2 separate regions of the Homo sapiens genome follow, and region 2 is linked to region 1. The links come from fine-mapping of genetic effects on gene expression. Tissue or cell type: testis. Region 1 holds a variant in brackets; the other region holds the start of a gene. All regions are shown on one strand. Distances are between the middles of the regions.

What was found. PIP is the estimated chance that this variant, and not a neighbour inherited with it, causes the effect.
Region 2: it holds the start of KLK1, and the variant in region 1 is fine-mapped to the expression of KLK1 in testis (GTEx, PIP 0.91).

The regions. Positions count from the first base shown.
Region 1 is chr19:51,586,289-51,594,389 of GRCh38, reverse strand. ZNF175 (zinc finger protein 175) reads right to left here. Exons shown (of 5, transcript NM_007147.4): 5 at 1,880-7,763. The coding sequence ends at 5,923. LINC01530 (long intergenic non-protein coding RNA 1530) reads left to right here and starts at 10. Exons shown (of 2, transcript NR_034159.1): 1 at 10-441; 2 at 1,339-2,607. RefSeq lists enhancers at 1-294, 295-930, 931-1,566 and a silencer at 6,498-6,698. The variant A/G (reference allele first, on the strand shown) is at 3,127.
Region 2 is chr19:50,819,547-50,827,647 of GRCh38, reverse strand. KLK1 (kallikrein 1) reads left to right here and starts at 3,861. Exons shown (of 5, transcript NM_002257.4): 1 at 3,861-3,945; 2 at 5,777-5,936; 3 at 7,205-7,494; 4 at 7,613-7,749. The coding sequence starts at 3,900. KLK15 (kallikrein related peptidase 15) reads left to right here. Exons shown (of 6, transcript NM_017509.4): 4 at 487-770; 5 at 891-1,027; 6 at 1,700-2,359. The coding sequence ends at 1,852. RefSeq lists a silencer at 6,600-6,669 and an enhancer at 7,783-7,912.

The DNA.
Region 1 (8,101 bases):
CGCAAGCACAATAGCCGTGCCAGAATTCTCTGCCAGCTGCTGTGCACTGCTGTCAGTGCAAAGATGGGATGGACTTTTTTTTCAGATTTTCTGCTGTTGTGGGAGTATGGCAAGAGTTTGAGGGGGCGGAGAAAGAGATTGGGAATGTGAAAAGGGAAGATAGCACCTGCGCTAAGCACATTCCTAGGATTGGGCCGCGTCTCGGGGATGCAGAGTGGGCTCTTCGGCGCGCCCTGCAGCCATGGGAGTGGACGCCTGCCCAGGCCGAAGGGCAAGGACTTGCGGGGTGGGGTCTCTGTGCATGCGCGGAGCTGAAAGGGAGCGTTTTGCAGATCTCCACGCGTGCGCAACTCTCGGGACGTGGACGCGGTGAACAGTTACGCACAATCGTCTTTCTGACACAAACACACCCTGCCAGGTGGAAGCCAGGATGGAGGGCAGGTGAGACCCGTAAGGCAAGATCCCAAAACCAAGGAACGGAGCACTCTCCCCGCTTGCTCCCCAGATCCAAGCCCTCCACTTCCTTCCAATGCCCCCCTTCCCGAAACTGCTCCCTCCTGTATATTCTGAGATCTTATCACTATTCCCGTGAGGCCCTTGATAAGGAGGATTGAGAGTGAAGGGTGATGGGAGACACGCCTTGGGCGTCTTCTGTCCACCTCAAGGATTGAACTTTGGTAACTGGAACTCATTCATTTGTTAATCTGTGTGCTAGGCCCTTTGACCCGCTGGCCAGATGCACCGGGACACAGGTGTATTCAGCCTGGTCCAGAGATAAGGATGATAAATCTTAATGTAAAGGTATCAGATGTTAAGGGCTGCAGGAGCCCAGAGGTTACAAGTGCTGCAAGCCAGAACATGGGGAAACAACAGCAATTAAGCCGTTAGCTTGTGCCTTGGAGGGGTGTTTGCCCTGCACCCCACTCACTACCTGAAGATAAATGGCTTCTCCAACGTGTAGTGGGGTTGGGATGATGAGGATGACATCACTGCCAGGTGGGAGGCAGGAGCTGCAGGTCCTGACATGATGAGGCAGGTATGGGCCGCCCTGGGCTGAGGGGGACATGGGCTACCCTGGACTGGAGGGCTGGGCTGTGGCATGGGGACCCTGTCAGAGACAGGTGTTTGGCCTCCATGCCTTCCTGTGTCTCTGGAAGGGTGAAACTAAGCGGGATGCTCCTCTCCCAGCCCCACCTGCTTTTCAGAGGCTACCATATGCTGGAGGGGGAAGATCCTGGCCACAAGCAGAGGCCCTGGAGGTGAATCAGTGTTGGAAGTGGGGTGGTTGGTTCTGGGTCCTCCCTGAGGCTCACATGGCTGCCCCTCCCCATCCTCCAGGCCTCGCCTTCTGTCCCGGATCCGCCAATCCTCCGATCCCTGGATCCTCTGATGATGGCATCAACTGTCTGGGCTACAGGTTGCTCTCCAAAGAGTGGCTGCCCCTCTACACCAACCTCACTGTGGACATAACTTCCAAGCCTCAGGAGACCCAGTGCAAAGCTGAGGGGTATCTTATCTGGAAGCCAGAAAGAGCCCCTGAGGCCAAGGTCACAGGGAAGCCCTCCCACTCACCCCACCTGGTTTCTTTTAAAAGTAGAGTTTATTTTATCTCCTTTCTGCCATCCCTAATTCCTTCCTTCCATCTGTCCATCCATCTTCTTTCCCCTCCCTCCCTTCCTCCCTTCTCCTTCTCCTCCTCCCCACACCTGCTTCTTTTCTCTTTCTTTCAACTATGTCCAGAAGGTCCTTCTTAACAAACACTAATTAGTACAGGGAAAGGTCTCTTTAAGTGAATGCATTTAAAATAGGGAGTCCACCTTTGTGGTAAATAGTGTGCACGAGGTGAGTCTGGATCAGGACTTCACACTTGATAACGGAATTCAATTTCTCAAAATACCTTTATTTCAGATTTAATGAAATTCCATGTTTGTTGAATCATTAAGAACGAGCATTTGTGTTGTACTCATGGTGGACAGCCACCATTCTAATGCTTGACTTTACATAATTAACGCATGTAATCTGCAAAGGAGCCACAAGGCGAGATCTATTATTATTCCCATTGTGCTGCTGGAGAAATTAAGGCAGAGAGGTTAAGTTGCTTGCCACCAAACTAGCGAGGGGCAGAGCTGGGATGTGTAGCATCCAGGTAGGTTGGCTCCAGAGCCCATGAGCCTAACTACTACTGTGCCCAACCTTTGTGCCAATCGCCACAACAGTCAAAGGATGGATCAAGTACTGGTTTTGGGGGTGGGGGCAGGGGACTCTGGGCAGTATGTTTTCTGATCACATCACATGACAGTAGGACATTCTTCATTTCACCATGGCTTTCACTGCCCAACAATAAAAAGGTCATGGGCACTTTGGGAGGCCGAGGGGGGGGGATCACGAGGTCAGGAGATCGAGACCATCCTGGCCAACACGGTGAAACCCCGTCTCTACTAAAAATACAAAAAATTAGCCAGGCATGGTGGTGGGCGCCTGTAGTCCCAGCTACTCGGGAGGCTGAGGCAGGAGAATGGCGTGAACCCGGGAGGCGGAGCTTGCAGTGAGCTGAGATCGTGCCACTGCACTCCAGAGCCTGGGCGACAGAGCGAGACTCCATCTCACAAGAAAAAAAAAAAAAAGGTCATGAGGAGGTAAAGTAGTACAATGGTTGAGAGTTAAAACACTGGCATCAGATAGCTTGGTTCAAATCCAGGCTTTTCTTGTTCCTAGATTTTCGGTCTTGAGTTTACGTCAAATTCTCTAAGCCTGTTTCCTCATCTCTAAAATGGGGTTTATGAGGTTAGATTATTTCCTACAATGGCTGTGAGGAATAAACGAGTTAGTTCATACAAGCTGCCTAGAATAGTAGCTTCTCCCTCTGGAAACTCAAAACTCTTGACCTCTCATCTCATGATGAGGCCATTGGACTAACATTTATTCATCTCTTAGTTCTCTGAGCCAACAGATCTTTTCACAGATCTGTGAGCATGCCCTCATGTGACTGAAAACTTTAGATAGCTCCCTGGGACCCATCAATTCCAAAGCTAATCACCCAACCAAACTCCAGATTCCTCCGTCTATTATCCCACAGGCATTGAGTACAGACTGGCTTGTCCCAGCGCTTGGTACTGAGAGGAAAGA[A/G]AAAATAGTATGAGACAGAGGCTGGGAGGGAGGTGAGCACTCTAGACAGAGGGGGTTGCGAGGTAGGGAGGAAACTAAGTTGTTAAAGCCAACAGGCCCCGGAAGTGGCACGAGGTCAGAGGTGTGGGATGGCCAGGGAACGAGCAGCTTTCTGGAAGTGGGGAGGAAGGGCTTGCCCTGAGGGGGACAGTTAGGGAGGCCCACGTGAGGAGTGAACATGTGGCTGGAGATGAGGACCCAGAGTGATCCCCCCAGGTGATGCTTAGGAACAGGGAAAGCCCAGATCTGAGAAGGGAGGCACATCCTGAGGGGTCTTTGGAACCAGTGTGTCTACACTGTGGGCTCAAGTTTTTAACACACTTGTCCTAGGGCCCTGCCACCTTCCTCCCTGAAACTGGTCAGGGTGCCACTCCCAGGACCCAGGTGCACACTATTTCCACCCCTCACCACCATGGAGAGGCCTCTGCAGCCTTTCCACCCCACACCAGTCATCTACGGCCGGCCAGCCCTTGTACCTGGACTCCCCAGGTGAGACTCTTCCACCTTTCTCAGGAGGTGGGACATGGTCACTGATACTACGCCCCTGGACAGGGAGAGGCCAGTGAGACACAGAACAGATTTGCTCTCCAGGGCCCAGCACAGGCTCCTGCATGTGCAGTCACCTTGTTTTAGACACAGCCTGAGGTCTGTGCTGGTTCCTGACCAGCTGTGTGGGCCCCTATCAACCTTGAAGGGGTATGGAGACTAAAGCCATGGGTGCCCATCTCTAACACCCTTCTGGAAAAGACTTCCAGCTGACAGAAATCTCCCACCACAGTCCCACACCCAGCACAAGGGAACCAGGCAGGCTCAGGGATACGAGGCCCGCTAAAATTCATCAGCACTTGGTCTGTCCATGCAGTTCCAAGGGTTTAACACACACACACTTCTCACACCAAATGCATGGGGGTAGGGTACTATCATCATCTCCCTTTTGTAGATGAGAAAACCAGAATAGATGAGACCAAATAACTTGCTCAGCAGATGCAGAGGGTAGAGAGTGGAGCCAGGAATCAAATGCAGGAACCTGGCTCCTGGGCCTGTGCACTTAAAAGATTATGCTGGTCTGCTTCTCGGAAGTATTGATAACAGTTCCCTCTCCGTTTTTTAGCAAAAAATGTGTGTGGGGAGGAAATAAGTAATCAAAACTGTGGGAATGGCTAAATAAATTATGGCAGGTCAACCTCATAGAATACACGTGTGTACAATCCATCATGGATTGTAGAATGAAAAAAATACCATCCACACACGTAAGAGATCTGAGTTTTATAAATCAATGAAAGAGTACTTACACAGGTATATGATGATGAACATAGTAATATGTGTGTATGTGTGTGTGTTTGTGTGTGTATCATGTGCTGGCAAACATTTTCTGTAAAGAGCCAGAGAGTAGATATTTTCAGTTTCCAGCTTGGGGGCTATTTGATCTCCGCCAAAACTACTCAATTCTGCCAGTGCAGCACAAAAGAAGCCCAGACAATACATGTCCAAATGAACATGGCTGTGTTCCAATAAAACTTTATTTTAAAAAAACAGTTGGGAGGCCATATTTGGCCAATGGCCACAGTTTGTTGACTCCTGGTGTAAAAATATGAACGAGACTAATGGTTGGCACTAATTATGGAGAGGCTCACTATAGATGGTGGAGATGGAAAGGGGGGGCAAGCTGAGCTAATCCTAAAAGAAGAGAAAATCTGTAATATAAAGATCAGTAAACATTATAGAATCTCATTTATGCATTTACCAAAAATGCACATTCATGTGTATGTATAATAAAGGAGTTAATCATTGTTGATACAACCTCATTATATAAATATTCAATAGGGAATAATTTTTATAAAAACAATTAGATTAGATTCTCTTAAAAAATAACTCATCTGCTTACATCTCCTGCTATGCAGTGAATTCTGCAGCAAACCCCACTGCACTGAGGGCATACATACATACATACATACGCATACATACACATATGCTGACCAGACCATATACATATGTCTGCATATGCATATATATACATACATAGATACAGAAATATACGTACATACAGGTTGGGTATTCCTAATCTGAAAACCCAAAATCTGAAACTTTTTGAACTCTAACATGACGCTCAAAGGAAATGCTAATTGGAGCATTTAATCTTGGATTTTCAGATTAGGGATGCTCAACCAATAAATATAATGCAAATATTCCAAAATCTGTAAGTATCTGAAATCCAAAATGCTTCTGATCCCAGGCATTTTGGAGAAGGGATACTCAACCTGTATATAATAATATGCTTATATATTATATATATGCTTATATACATAAGGCGCACACACACACATAAAATATTGTCCTATCATGACTGTGTTGGCACTTTAAAAATATTGATATCCCACAATAAACAGGGTTATCATTGATATAATTTCCCACATATTTTACTATAAATAATCGAGTAACAACCTGTCTTGTACCATTCTTTACAGAAAGGCTTTTCTCAATGCGTTAGTCAGGGTTTCTTCCCGGGGAGAAAATTTATAATCCTTAATGAGGCCAGTACTCAGAAGGACATTTCTGCTTACTCTTTTCTCTGTAATTGCCCTCACTAAAATAAAGCATGACTTTTTTATCATGTGTTCACACATGCAGTGCATCCCTAGAGTTTTTCTGAAGCATGAATTCAATAACATATAATTAGACCTGATTCTGAGAAGATTTTCTCTTCTTCAAGAAACTCGGAGTATATTTCATTTATGAATATGCTGATGCACTAGGAATTCATTGCTTGGTAAAGCCTTTCACAGAATAACTGCATTTGTAAGATTTGTCTCTGGTATGAGTTGTTTGGTGTTTATTGAAGTTTGACCTGTTGTTGAAGGCCTTTCCACATTCAGAACACACATAAGGTCTTTCTCCCGTGTGAATTCGCTGATGCACCTTGAGTTGTGGTTTCTTACTGAACGATTTCCCACAGTCAAGGCATTCATAGGGTTTCTCTCCCATGTGAGTTCTTTGATGGGTAATCAACTCTGATTTCTGGACAAAAGCCTTCCCACATTTGTAACAGACAAAAGGCCTCTCTCTAGTGTGAGTTATTTGATGTTTATGGAAATTTGACCTGCCGTTGAAGGCCTTCCCACATTCAGTGCACACATAGGGTTTCTCACCCGTGTGAATTCGCTGATGCTCTTTGAATTGAGACTTAGAAGTGAAGGCTTTCCCACATTCACTGCATTTGTAAGGCTTCTCTCCGGTGTGAATTCTCTGATGCATGCTGAGTATTGACTTCTGGTTGAAGGCTTTCCCGCATTCACTGCATACATGGTGTCTTTCTCCAGTATGAATTTTCTGGTGTATATTCAGGTGTGACTTTTGGGTGAAGGTTTTTCCACAGTCACTGCATTCATAAGGTTTCTCCCCTGTATGAATTCGATGATGTATATCAAGCTGTGACTTGGAAATGAAGGATTTCCCACAGTTGTGGCACTGATAAGGTTTTTCTCCTGTGTGGCTTCTTTGATGGACAATCAGGTGTGCCTTCTGGATGAAGGCCTGCCCGCATTCGATACACACATAGGACTTCTGCCCTGAGTGGATTCTCTGGTGCAAGCTGAGTGTTGACTTCTGGGTAAAGGCTTTCCCACATTCACTGCATGCATACTGTCTCTCACCAGTATGAATTTTCTGATGTATAATGAGGGTTGAGTTTTGGGAGAAGCCTTTGCCACATTCACTGCATTCATAGAGTTTTTCTCTACTGTGAGTTCTCTGATGTCTGAAGAGAGATAACATCTGGAAAAAGGCTTTTCCACAGTCATGGCATTTATAGGGCTTCTTTCTAGTGTGTGTTTTCTGGTGCGTAAGCAATTCTGATCTCTGAATAAAGACCTTCCCACATTCCTTGCATATACAGGGTATATCACCTGTATGATCTGTCAGATATACACTGAGTTTTAGTTGTGGCATGAAGGCTTTTCCACATTTGCCACATTCATGGAGGTTTCCTACACTATGAATTCTCTGTTGGGCAAAGAGGTGTGACTTCTGGGTGAAGCTCCCCCCACATTCAGAACATCCATCTGGTTTCTTCTGAGTATGAATTTGATGTTGCTTGAGTGACTGTTTATGGCCACAGACTTTTCTACACTGGTTACCTTTGCAAAATGTCTCTCCTGTATGAATATTCTTGCTGCAGGCATCAGAAGAGCTATGGCTGAATAGCTGACCAGACCCAACAACGTCATCAAGCTGTTCTGTGTCATTGCTTTCATTCTGACCGTTCACTTCTAGGTTCAGCTTCAAACTTTCTGTAAATAAGCAACATTTCTGAGGTTGTTTCTGTGAAGAAGCAAGGTGGGGCCTCGTGCGAATCATTTTCCCAGGGTCCTTATATTCACAATTGCTTTCTGTGTTCAATGTTTTCTTGTTGAAGAAAGCACTGTGACTCATGGGTTGAATTTGATTTTGCTCATCTTTCTTTGTGCGGTCAGCATCCAGCCTCAGTTCTTCTAAAATGGAACACCATGAACCATCTCTTGTGAACTCACCTACCATATCCTTTTGAAATGAAGCTTTCTTAGAAATCTCCTTTTGTGGGATTTCAAGCCCAAACTCCCTTTCTAAAAGGAGAAAGAGAAGATGAAATAGACACAATGAACAAGAAAGAGGAGAAACTGCATGAAGCTGATTGACACAGAACACAAGGAAATTGCTGAGTCATGTAATAATGCTGCTAATGATGCTGACAATGAGCAGAAACACAGAGCCCTTATTACATGATGAGCATTTATCTACATAGCACTTAGCATGTGCCAGGCAGTGGCCTACATGGTGCACACATACTCATTTAATCTGCATAATAACCTCAGGAGGTAGCGATGATGGGTGTTCCTGTTTTACAAAGAAAAGGAAGCACATAATGGTTATGTAATTGGCCAAGATCACTTTGCTAATCTGT
Region 2 (8,101 bases), 770 kb after region 1:
GCTCAGGGTCCTGAGGGAGCCTGGTTCGGGGGGAAGAGCTCCTAGATTTGGGGGAAGACGGAGGCAGACGCCAGAACTCCTGGGTTCTGAAAGACGAGGAGGCCGGATGTCAAGCCCCTGGGTTAGGAAGGAGTGTGTGTTTCAAAGCCTTCGATCTCTGAAGGAGGAAGGAGAAGACTAGTTCCAGCTTTTGAGCCTCAGTTCTAGGGATGTGAGAATCCTGGATTCGGGGACAGACCAGGAGGGGGCTGGGAGTAGTTGGAGGGGATCGAGTTCTAGGAGTGTGCCTGACTTCAGACTCGTTGGTCCTTGAGGAGCAGGGGCTGGAACCATTGGCTTCAGGGTCTTGGGAAAAGGTAATGGGATGTCGAGATTTCTAAAGGGTCGGGAGACCTCGGGTTGCCCACTCTTTGATCTTTCTGTCCTCTACTTGCGGGTAACCACTGGCCCGCACTCCACTGGCGGGAAAACCACTCGCCCGCACAGCTTCATGAGAGTGCGCCTGGGAGAGCACAACCTGCGCAAGCGCGATGGCCCAGAGCAACTACGGACCACGTCTCGGGTCATTCCACACCCGCGCTACGAAGCGCGCAGCCACCGCAACGACATCATGTTGCTGCGCCTAGTCCAGCCCGCACGCCTGAACCCCCAGGTGCGCCCCGCGGTGCTACCCACGCGTTGCCCCCACCCGGGGGAGGCCTGTGTGGTGTCTGGCTGGGGCCTGGTGTCCCACAACGAGCCTGGGACCGCTGGGAGCCCCCGGTCACAAGGTGCGTGAAAGGATGGAGCTGGATGCGAGGCCTCAAGGAATCCTATGCTCCAGGGCTCTTGGGCGGAGGGGACAAGGGCCGGAATTTATGGATCTGCTCCAAGTCCACTGTCTTCCCCAGTGAGTCTCCCAGATACGTTGCATTGTGCCAACATCAGCATTATCTCGGACACATCTTGTGACAAGAGCTACCCAGGGCGCCTGACAAACACCATGGTGTGTGCAGGCGCGGAGGGCAGAGGCGCAGAATCCTGTGAGGTCAGAGCCTAGAGGGGCCATCAGGCGGAAGAAGAGGGATGGGGACAGGTGTGGGAGTCCGGATGGGGTTGGATTTTCTTTGCTTTGGGCCAGAGAAGATGCTAGGGTTAGGCTTGGAGATGGAGTAGGAAGAGAAGTTAGAATAGGGGTGAGGTTGGAGTTGGGGTTATAGGTGGGGATTGCGTTGTTTGAGGTGGATAATGTGATAGTTAGTTTGAGATGGCATGGGTTGGGGTTGAGAATGGGAATGGTTTGGTTTGATTCTGGGTGGGAAATACGTCAGGGTTGAATTGGGATGAGGTAGATTTTGTTTGGAATGCAGAAGACATGAAGATTGAGATTGGATTTTGAGATGGGCATGGGTTTGATTTGATTTTGAATGGTGAGGATGTGGGCTGAGTTGGATTTAACTTAGTACAGTTGCACTGGAGTTGCATGGGGGTGAGATTGGATATAGGTTGGGTGAGTTGTATTGAGCTGTGTTGAATTGGGGTTGGGGTTGGGGTTGGGTTGGCTCTGTTTGGGATAAACTGGGCTGTATTGAGTTGAGTTGGGTTGGGGTTCCCTGGGATGGGGATGGATTGGGTTTGGGGTGAGATTGCAAATGGTGATTAGGATGAGGATGAATCCAGGAGGTTTCACTCAACCTGAGACCCCCTCTTTTCCCCACAGGGTGACTCTGGGGGACCCCTGGTCTGTGGGGGCATCCTGCAGGGCATTGTGTCCTGGGGTGACGTCCCTTGTGACAACACCACCAAGCCTGGTGTCTATACCAAAGTCTGCCACTACTTGGAGTGGATCAGGGAAACCATGAAGAGGAACTGACTATTCTAGCCTATCTCCTGTGCCCCTGACTGAGCAGAAGCCCCCACAGCTGGCCAGCAGCCCCGCCTGACATGGAACAGAACGGAGCCATCCCCCAAGACCCTGTCCAAGGCCCAGATGTTAGCCAAGGACTTGTCCCACCTGAGGACAAAGCTGGCGCTCAAGGTCACCTGTTTAATGCCAAGATAACAAAGCGCTGATCCAAGTTGCTCTGTAGGAATTTCTGTGACTTTTTTCTGGGGTCAAAGAGAAACCCCGAGACACTGTACACTGTTCCTTTTCACCCACCACCCCGATCCCTAGGTGAGGAGAAGCGGCTTGAAGCAGGGCTCCATTCATTCAACACACATGACCACCCGTGTGATCTTGAACAAGAGGCCCAATCTCACTTCGCCTTGGTTTCCTTATCTGTAAAATGAGACCATCTTATTGCTGACTTCAAAGGGCTGTTGTGAGGATTAAATGAGATGATTCGTCTGAACTGATTAAAATCGTGTCTGGCACTGAGTAAATACCCTCTATCTCTGGATCCCAGTTAAAGGACCTAACAGACACTAGATTACCAAGAATGGCTTTTTCTTTAAGGTTTAGTTCTGGGCCGGGCATGGTGGCTCACACCTGTAATCCCAGCACTTTGGGAGGCCAAGGCGGGCGGCTCACTTGAGGTCAGGAGTGCAAGACCAGCCTGGCCAACATGGTGAAACCCCATCTCTACTAAAAATACTAAAAAAATTTAGCCGGGCGTGGTGGCACACGACTGTAATCCTAGCTACTTGGGAGGGTGATGTGGGAGGATCGCTTGAACTTAGGAGGCAGGAGTTGCAGTGAGCCGAGATCGCGCCACTGCACTCCAGCCTGGTGACAGAGCAAGACTCCATCTCAGAAAAAAAAAAAAAAAAAAAAAGATTTAGTTCTGGGCTTCCTGGTAGCCATGGCAAAAAGGCAAATACTGTCCTTTCCTTAGCCAGGTCCCTGATATACAGCAGAGGCTGGAACTCTGAGCTGCTTTGATTTTACCAAAAAGCCAAGACAACCTGTTGGAAGCCTATGGGTTTACCATTGAGGCTGCAGGAATCTAGTTCCTAATTATCTTCAGAGACCACAAAATGTGATGTTCAAGGTCGCTGAATGTTGAAGTACATGAACCTGGCTCGTGAGACCTAAATATTGTACTGGTGGTGGGGGGGAAGGGTCATTGGAATCTGTGGTTAGCCTGATCTTGACCTGGGAGGGAAGGTTGTCCAGATCTCTGGGACTTTGGAGGACAGGACGTTGAGCACCCATAACTGGGAGCAAGAAGTGGGAGGCTCATTGAGACCCCAGCATTGTTTGGGAGGGACACTGGATTTTGTAATGCTAAAGAACTTACCCTGGGAGACCCCTGAAACTTCACATTCCTGGATCTGGAGGCACTAGGAATGTGGTGATGTGTACCCCAAAATTTTATTATGAAAGGAACAGTAGCTTTGGGGACCTAGGTCCTGGGTCTGGGAGTGCAAGAACCAGGGCATTCTGAAGGCCAAGGCTTATATTTCAGGGGGAACTGGCAGCTGAGATGCTAGTATCTTGGCTCCGAGTGGTGCAGGGAATCAGAGCCCTAACTGCTGGTGTTTGAGGGCACCAGGTCTGGGGGTGCAGGGCCTTAATTGAGACTGAGGTATATGGGGCTTTGTACCAGGGGTCACTGATTCCTCCGTCTTCCTGTTTCTGCTTCCCCTCAGTCCCCCCTTGCCTCACTGGCTGCTCCCCAGAGCAAAGCCCCAGAGCCACAGGCCCTGCCCCACCTGGCTTCAACCCCAGGAATGCGTCCAGCGTGATCCAGGGCCTGCAGAACAGGTGCTGGTTCTCCCTCCCCGTCTACAGCTCTGGGGATCGGAGGGGGGGGGGGCAATTGTCCAGCCCCCAGGCAACAGGGGAAGGGCCTTGGCCAACATCTGGGTGCCAGCAGGGCAGGGGTGGGGCTCTGAGGGGATAAGGGCTTTTAAAAGCCTCCCCAGGGAGGTTCCCCAGTTCCTCCACCTGCTGGCCCCTGGACACCTCTGTCACCATGTGGTTCCTGGTTCTGTGCCTCGCCCTGTCCCTGGGGGGGACTGGTGAGACAGTGGGGGGATGTGGGAGGGGGAACGGGCCCTGATTCTCTTGCTGGCCTCACATCCCCCCCCGATAAGACCTTCCCCTCCAACACCCCACCCTCATCCCTCTGGCCCACAGTCTATCCTAGTCCGGGGTGCCCCGGCTCTTATCTATCTTGCGCGGCCCCACCCTAAACTTCCACCCCCGCTCCTCCATGTTGTCATAGTGCTCACTCCCACACCAGATTCCTGCTCCTCCCAGGAAGCCTCAGTACTTTCTCCTCTTCCCTAGCCAACGCCCTGTCCCACCGCTTTACCAAAGGGGCAGATTCTGGGCCATCTCTGTCTCTCTCTGGAGGACCCCAACCCTCCCATGGGCTTCCCCCACCCCACAGGACTCTGATCATCCCCTCCTGCCCCCTAGTTCCCTGCGGCCACCTATTTGGCTCCTGAGTCTACAAATCCCACCACACTCCAGTGACTTTTTCCATCCAGCTGTCCGCTCTCAACTGTGTCCTCCAGACCCTGACATCTGGTCTCCCCAGTCCTTCCAGGGTCCCCCAAATTTCACCAGAAAACCCTGCTTCCCAAACTGGCATGTGGGATCCCCCATCTGGTATGGGGGGGGGTCTGCAAATGTCCCTTCCCACCCAGCACCCCCAGCTCTCCCAGGAAAAACACCACACCCTCCCACCACATGCTCCTTTCCTTGGGGAAGTTCCATCCCGCCCCAGGCCCCAGCCCTTCTCTGCCTGAATTGTTCCTACACAGCTCTGGTTTTCTGGAACCCCACCCCAAGGATCCTGAATGCCTTCTCAGCCAGCGCTTCTGCCCTGGCCTCCCCCAAGTCAGTATGTGATTCTACAACCTCACGTCAAGTGGGTCCTGCATTGCATTCCCACAGCTGCTTGGCGCCTGTTCTCACCACTTCTCCAATCCTCTTCCTAGGATTGCCTCCAAGAGGACCCCATATCCTTCCAGTACCCTCAGACCATGAACCCCATCCCCATGAGAAACGAAGATCCCATCCTTCACCCTGTCCGAGAAGGACTGCCACTCACGCCTCCCTCCTCCTGAGCCCCGTCCCAGTCCTGACCGCAACTGTGTTCTCAGGGCCCCAACCTCCCCTCAGATTGCCATTCCTGGTTCACAGGAAGGACCCCAAAACCTCTCGGAAGCCCACCTCTAGCCTTAACCATAGCCCTTTCTTTTACCCTTTAACCAGGAAGCCCTGAAATCTAACTGTCCCAGCCAAGCTGGCCCCTTCCAACCCCAATGTAGGGACCCCAAGTCACCCCCAAACTCTTCAGTCCAGATGCTCTTCTTTACCTCTCAGACCTGGTTCCCTAAAGCTGCATCCTTTCCTGAACCTCAAAAGCCCAACCCAGGTCCTGTTTCCCTAGCCTAGGAGCCCCTTAGCCCTCCAGATTCTTCCTCAGTGAGCCTCTGATCCTGTCCCACCCTTGGCGCCTTGATCCCTGGTTTCCAGAATCCCTTTCCACTCCCCTAACCCACCACCTCCCATCCCCCAGCCCCAGACCCCAAATGACCTGACGCCCAGATGCAGTGTCTGCTCCAGACACTGTCTCCTGTCTCCTACCCTGATCCCTGGAGGCTGCTCTACTGTCAGAGCACAAAATCTCCCCACCAGGTCCAGCCACCACTCCAAAAGCCCAGGGAACAGTCCAGAGTCCCACCCCTTCCCAACACCCCTTGCCCATGTCCCCAACCTCCAGCCCTGGTCCTCTACCCGCAATGTCCCTTCAGACCCACAGCCCAGCTCCCTCTCCTAGCCTTGTCCCTGGCCTCTCCTGCCAACCCTGCCCTTCCTGACCCAGCACCGCCTCTGCAGGTGCTGCGCCCCCGATTCAGTCCCGGATTGTGGGAGGCTGGGAGTGTGAGCAGCATTCCCAGCCCTGGCAGGCGGCTCTGTACCATTTCAGCACTTTCCAGTGTGGGGGCATCCTGGTGCACCGCCAGTGGGTGCTCACAGCTGCTCATTGCATCAGCGAGTGAGTAGGGGCCTGGGGTCTGGGAGGAGGGCATCTATGCTGCCACAGGATTGACAGGCCAGTGGCATTCCCCTTGGATAACCTCAGGCAAGACTGGGGGGCTGAGGCAGAGAGGAAGGCTCTGGCGCAGGTCGCCTGGCAGGGCAGAGCTGGGCTGGACACCCCTCTCCAAGGCTGCCTGGGTCTCTTGGGATCTGGTTCTGCTTGTGTCTCTGTGTGACTGTGTTCTGGTCTCTGTCTTCCTCTCTCTCCTCTGTCTCCTTGTCTCTGCATCTCCCCTGTCTCTGTCTGTCTCTGAGTCTCTCTGCGGCATCTCTGTCACTGTGTCTCACCCTCCATCTCTCTACCCATCTCTCTCTCTCTGGGTCTCTACCTCACCGCTCCCTCATCCCTACTAAACACACACCCAGATGGACCTAAGGGAGGCCCCAGAGTAAAGGAAGGGCTTTATCCCCAACTTGTGTGCCTGGGAGGGGGCGCCTCTCCCTCTGTCCAGCTCCCCGCCCCACAGGATATCCCTCCACTCTGGAGAGACACAGGGAAGGGCTGGTTTCAGCGGGAGCTGGGTGGGGCAACTGAGGGAGGAGGAAGGAGGAGGCGGGGCGAGAAACGCGCGGGAGGGTGCTGGGAAGGGAAGGGGGCCTCGACCTTGGACTTCAGGCCAGGCCACCTGCCCCTGGGGAGCCCGCACCACAGCCCCAGCTGCAGCTGAGCCGCTCTCAGGCCTCCCCTCCTCCCTACCTGCCCCCACCCTCCCCACCTGCCCCCACCCTCCCCCAGGGCCTCCCTCCCTTTTCTCTCCCACACTCGGTCACTCCTGCTTCCTCTCTGCCTCTGTTTCTAGTTCTCACTCTGACGTCCCGCGTCCTTTTTCATTTGTCTGCTTCTCGCTCCCTTCCGTGTTCTGTTCCCTCTTCCTCCCTCTTCCCTGGGCCTGTTTCTCGCTGTCCCTGTCTTTTATCCTTCTCATCTGCCTCTTTTTTGCTCACCCTGTTTCTCACTGCCCTCCCCTCCGCCTTTTTCACCCCTCTGTCCTTTTGAGCTCTTTTTTGCTCTGTCTCTTCATTTGCCTTTTGCACTCTCAAAATCTTTCATCTTCCCATTCGCTGTCTGTATTTCTCCATAACTATATCTTTCTTCCTCTGTCTCCGCCCACCCACATTTTTCTCTTTCCCTTTCTCTCTTTGGGGACCCTCCCCCATGCTCCCCTGCCCCATCCCCTTTTCCCCTTCCCGTCTTCTCATCCCTCCATTCCCATCTTTCCCCAGCAATTACCAGCTCTGGCTGGGTCGCCACAACTTGTTTGACGACGAAAACACAGCCCAGTTTGTTCATGTCAGTGAGAGCTTCCCACACCCTGGCTTCAACATGAGCCTCCTGGAGAACCACACCCGCCAAGCAGACGAGGACTACAGCCACGACCTCATGCTGCTCCGCCTGACAGAGCCTGCTGATACCATCACAGATGCTGTGAAGGTCGTGGAGTTGCCCACCGAGGAACCCGAAGTGGGGAGCACCTGTTTGGCTTCCGGCTGGGGCAGCATCGAACCAGAGAATTGTATGTGGGGGCAGACTGTGTAGCCCAAGGCGGGGATGGGGACTCCTGCGTCCAAGGGAGAAAGGGCCAGGGAAGCAGGTGAGGTCGGGCTGCAGCCCTTTTTCTCCCGGGTTCGTAGTCTCATTTCCAGATGATCTCCAGTGTGTGGACCTCAAAATCCTGCCTAATGATGAGTGCAAAAAAGCCCACGTCCAGAAGGTGACAGACTTCATGCTGTGTGTCGGACACCTGGAAGGTGGCAAAGACACCTGTGTGGTGAGGCAGCCCTGCCCCCAGGGTCTGGAAGGGCTGAGGGAGGGGACTCAGCCTCTGAACTGGCTTCTGAGAGCTAACCAGGCATCTGCTTCACTGCTTCCCAGCTAGCTGTAGCCACTCGCCCCATCAGTGCCCCAGCTCCCCCTCCTTCCCCCGCCCATCCAGGGACAACTGCATCTCACCCCCCACACCAGAGTTCACCGTTCCTCGTGGTAATGTGTTGTTACCGTCGAGTCAGAGAGTAGTCCTGGAGAGGTGGCCTCTGCGATGTGCCCGCAGGGGCAGCGTCCTGCAGATGGTCCTGCCCCTCCTCCCCCTAACCTGTCTGCAGGCACTGTCCACCTGGACCCTG